Linked DNA regions of Homo sapiens: region 2 is linked to region 1. Evidence: fine-mapped expression QTL. A gene starts in region 1. The other region holds a variant in brackets. All regions are shown on one strand. Distances are from middle to middle.

Region 1 (2,500 bases):
AACCCTGTCTCTACTAAAATTACAAAAATTAGCCAGGCATGGTAGTACATGCCTGTTATCCCAGCTACTTGGAAAGCTGAGACAGGAGAATCGCTTGAACCTGGGAGGAGAAGTTTGCAGTGAGCCAAGGTTGTGCCACTGCACTCCAGCTTGGACGACAGAGGGAGACTCAATCTCAAAAAAAAAAAAAAAAAAAAAAAAAATAGCCCATTGAAAGGCTGTGAGCAAGGAAGTAATAAGGTCAGATTTGCAGTTGAGAATGATCCCTGAGTCTCGGTTTTCTTATCTATGAAATGAGGCTAAGAATAATAAAATAGAGAATTAAATGAGATAATGCCTGTAAACAGTGCCTGGCATATAGCTTATTATTCATCCAGCTAAGAGGCCCTTCCATATGTGAAGCTTTGCTCTGTGAGGTCTGTATTACAATCACATTCAGTTATAGCTAATTATTTACTTATGTAGCTATCTCTGAAACTTAGAAATGAAATCATCGAGGAAAAAGGCCATTTCTTGATCCTGTCTGTGTTCCCTGTTCCCAGCATAAAGCCTAACACGTATTAGGCTAATGTCACCGAGCAAAGAAAGCATCAAAGTGGCGGGTCGGGCCCTAAACCCACGATGGGAGATACCACATTCGGCCACAAGAGGGCGCGTCACATTTTCTCCAAGAGAAGCTGGGCCGCTGATGAAGGACGGGCTCCGGGCCTCCCAGAGACACTTCACCTCCTGGGATCTTGCTCTAAGGAAGCCCGGTGCGAAGGAGGTGGCTTTCTCAGGTGGTCGCGCTAGATGTCCAAGGCTTTATGTTCGGTCAGATGAGCTGTATAATAAAATGAAAGTGTTAACTGGCATGGACGATAGCTGCTGCCTCCACCGCCACTAGTAGTGATGGTTTTTACTCTGGATGTTTTTCAGTTGGAAAAGCAAACTCCGCCTTTTCCTGAGCCGCTTGGATCTTTGTGGAAGCGGGTGGGCTGCATATATACAGGACGGATTCGTATAGGCTTGCACCCTGGTTCCGAATTTTGCAAATATTCGCAGTCTGGGTCACTGTCATCCGGACTGGGAATCCCCAAGACCCGTTAAGGGAGGATAGGTAACGATCATGACAGGTGAAACAGGTACCTTTGAGTTGGAGAAAAGGGATTGGTTGAAAGCTACCTAGACAACTCTGGAAAGGAAGGGTTAAAAGGAGCCTGCAGGTGAAGGAGATGCGAGGGGGTAGCAAGGGAAAGGCAGGCGTGGAAGAGGAAGCGAAAGGGCTGGCGGGGCTCTGGGAAGGAAGGGGTTAACCCGGGCTTCGCCCCGCGGAGGAAAGGGAGGAGTGAACACAGGGGAGGTGGGAACTCGGCGCGGCCTCCCCAAAACAACAGGCCGCCCCGGCAAAGCGTGGGTTAAGGGGGCGGGCCCGGGGGAAGCCACGTGCCGGGGCGGAAGGCTATTGGTTCGCCCGGAGTTGTTTGTGAGTGGCCATTGGCGACGTCGAGGCGCCATGACGAGCCGATTGGCTGGGCGTTGGAATGCCCGCCAGGGCAAGGGTAGGGAGGAGGCGGCCGAACCGCGTCGCTGGGCCGAAAGGTGCGCGAGCGCTGCCCGCGCGGGGACCACAACCAAAGTCGCGGCCGCCGCAGCCATGCGCTGGGTGTGGGCGCTGCTGAAGAATGCGTCCCTGGCAGGGGCGCCCAAGTACATAGAGCACTTCAGCAAGTTCTCCCCGTCCCCGCTGTCCATGAAGCAGTTTCTGGACTTCGGTACGGAGTGGGCGGGAGGCGGCTGGCAGCGGAGGCCGGCGGGGCGCTGGGAGGGGCAGCCGGGGGCTAGGGGGACGGAGGAGAAGAAAGGCCCCGAGTGACAGAGAAGGGTTGTTTGGAAAGGTACAGGCAGGAAAGAGTTAATGGGGAAGCAGGAACCGGCCGGGGCCTCTCGACGGGGCTGCTGATGGGAATGGGGGGCATTTACAAGGACGGTCCCGAGGTTTCTTCGTGGGCCTCATGAAGGGTCTTGAAGAGTAAGGGGCAGTGAAGCTGTGATGTTACTGCAGGAAGGGAGTAGGGTGGTATCCAGACGCGAAAGGGTTAATGGGAGTTGTCCTCATGACTGGAGGAGTAGGGGCCCCTCCTCCCACCAGAGGAAACCGGGGGTCTGCTGGTGGGAGTGAGGAGGCAGGGTTTAGAGGTGCAGCCATCTGTAGAGAGACCTGGACTGGGCATGAAGGGTCAGACACCCCTGGGCAGAGGGTGAGATTAAGCCAGGGGCAGTTGGGGAAGGGGGCTCTTTCAGAAGATGCCATTGGGAGACAGTGCCCTGACTGGTAGACATCCACCCACAGAAGGAGCTGGACCCTAGCTGCCCCAGTGGGCAAGGACACTTGAAGATCAAATCTGTTCCGGCCTGGCAGCCTCTCCCCAGCTGGGCAGGGGCCCCAGGCACCGTGATGTGGAGTCAAGCCGCCTATACCTCCCTTGGCTGCCCCAGGGCTGCTAGGTCAGGATCGCCC
Region 2 (2,500 bases), 37 kb before region 1:
ATTGGCAAGTGCTGACGGGGCCAGAACCTGTCTGGACGCCACCCCTCCGCCCTTTAGATCTCTCATGAGAGCGGAAGTGGGGTCCCGGTGGCTGAGTCCTCTCCCATTCTGTGAACCGAGTACCCAGCACTAGCCTGTTCTCTCCAGGGCTGGGAGCTGGGGTAAACTGCAAGATAAACACCCAGCGGACTCCCCCCTTCCCGTACGCTTGGGGGAAAAATGAGCATATACATTTAAGCACCTCGCTGGTAGTCTGCGGCCACGCCAGCCACACCCTCTGCAGAGCCAGACTGGATGGCCTTCTCAACCGCTGGCTTGGCGGATGGAGGGTGAGGCGATGGGTGAGTCTGGGCGTTTGGAGCTGTCCATACGCTCCCTCTGACGCCTTGAGGATAGGGGCGGTGAAAGAGAGAGGAGGACTTGTCCCAACTCTGGCTGGGTCTCCTCCTGCCCACCCGCAAGCAGTGGCACTCTCCCCGCAGACATCTTCCCTGCATTCCACAGATTCGTGTTGGATCTTCAACCCTGAGTGTGTTTGTTTTGGTTTGAAGAGGGAAACAGTGTTTTTCTCTTTCTTCTGTTCTCCTTCCCCAACAGCTGCAAGGAGGAGGGGAAGAGCTATGCACAGTGGAGGAAGGAGGAGGAGGTTGCACCCAGCCTCCTGGGTCCCCCTCACTCCACCAGACGCCCTCATGCCCAGGAGCATGTCCAGGCTTCAGAGGTCTCTCTGCCGTGGCCTCAGAGCGCGCGGAGGTTGGCGGTTGGGGGAGGTGAAGCTGTCCAAAGAGGGACGGTGTTTAGGACAGGTTAAGCAGGTACCATCCACCACTTTGGGCTGGGCGATCTGCCAGGCATCTGCCCCCACCTAGCCTCTGCCCCCACCTGGCCTCTGACCCCACTGAACAAGAAGACGTGGTCACATCCAGGGTACACTGGAAAATCTCCCTGCTCTGGCTGGGGCCTGCAGAGCTTGAGGAAGTTTAGAATGTCCAAAGTCCAAACTCTGCCCCCGCCTTGGTTCTGCCCTCCTGACCCAGCCTACCTACCTGGACTTAACCTCAACTCCATCTTGCTCTTGCAGAGGCTAGGGCTACCACACCCTTCCCAGCCTGGCCCCAGCAGCTGCCACCTGGCCTTAGCCAACCCTCTATCTTTTGGAGATCCTGAGCCACCAT[G/T]AGCACAAGTTTCTACATCAGCTCTTTCTGCCCTAACTGAGAAAAAGATTTTCAGACTTTCAATGCCAAATCTGCATGATATAAGATAACATAGGTAAAGAGATCAGACTGGAAAGAAAGAGTCAATAATGATTCCGCAACCCTTTTGCCTGGTGACCTTGAGCAAGATATTTCCCCTCCCTGGGCCAGGTTTCCCCCAAAACGGGTTGGACCTGGATCTAGTGCTCTTTCCCACTGCTGCTGGCCTGTGAGAAGCAACTTGATATGGTAGAGGGAGAAGAGGCTTGGAGGTCCCATGGCCAGTGTCCTGTCTCAGATCTGTTACCAATACCTGAACCTGAATTTCCGCACATGTTGGAGGGAGGGGAACAGCATGCCTTCTGCTGGGATGTTAGTGGGGCTGTAACGAGATAAAGTGCGTAAAATCCTCTGCACATGTGCCTTTCTCCAAGGAGCACCTGAAGGCTCTTGCGCTGAGGCCAGAACCTGGATGCATCCTCATTACCCATGGGCCCCGCCCAGGGTGGCTGAGCAAAGGGGTTCTACTTTTCTGTCTGGGAAGCTGGAGCTGGCATTCAGCCTGCCAAGAGCCCAGAAGGTTCTAAAGCTAATGAACCTCTGAGGGGCAGTTCTCTCCCTTGAGTATCCTCAGTCTTTCCTAAGGGTGGTTCTGTGTCTTGGCCCTTCTCTTCATCTCACTAAATTCGACCCCTCGGCCATTTGGGAGAGCCAGCTGGGCTTAGCTGCAGCCAGCTGTGTAGCCAGATGCAAACAGCTGCCTGAGTGCACAACTCAGAGGAACTAACTAGTAAGACGAGCTGCAGCCTCATATTCTGTTAGCCTGAAAGTCTCTTTGGAAAAGTGGGATGGTTCGTGGTCTTGGACAGGCTCTTAAACTGGGGTTCGTAGAAGGTTTTCAAGAGATGCAGGGACTCCCTGAAAGTGTACCCAAAATCGTAGTATTTGTCCACTGCCCTGGGGGTGGGAGGAGGGGAGAGCACAGCTTTCTTGTTCTCCATTCATAAGGCCTCAGAAATGGTTAGAAACCCAGGGGTGGGACCCTCTTTGCTGCCCCATCACCTTCATCTCTGGACTGGGGTTCCTGGTCCACAACATAGGGGGCTAGCCCCAACCCAGGGCCCAGTCTCCTAGTCTGTGGAAATGAGGGGTAAGGAGCAGGCAGAGGACCAAAGTGCTCTGGGCTTCTTGGCAAGATGCATGAGGGGTTCCTTGGAGGGACAGGGACTGTTCTCTGGGAGGTGGTTACTGACACCCTCTCTGCTCCAGCACCTGCACTGACATTCCCTCCTGGGAATCCAGGCATT

Evidence for each region. PIP is the estimated chance that this variant, and not a neighbour inherited with it, causes the effect.
Region 2: its variant is fine-mapped to the expression of PDK2 in whole blood (INTERVAL, PIP above 0.99).

What each region holds. Positions count from the first base shown.
Region 1 is chr17:50,093,800-50,096,299 of GRCh38, forward strand. PDK2 (pyruvate dehydrogenase kinase 2) reads left to right here and starts at 1,552. Exons shown (of 11, transcript NM_002611.5): 1 at 1,552-1,754. The coding sequence starts at 1,637. LOC124904024 (a long non-coding RNA gene) reads left to right here. Exons shown (of 2, transcript XR_007065837.1): 2 at 543-854. RefSeq lists enhancers at 711-920, 1,952-2,467, 2,468-2,500 and a silencer at 1,301-1,420.
Region 2 is chr17:50,056,826-50,059,325 of GRCh38, forward strand. The region is part of intron 1 of ITGA3 (integrin subunit alpha 3); the gene reads left to right. Among named protein-coding and RNA genes, the nearest start is that of ITGA3, 2.0 kb to the left of the region's middle. The variant G/T (reference allele first, on the strand shown) is at 1,176.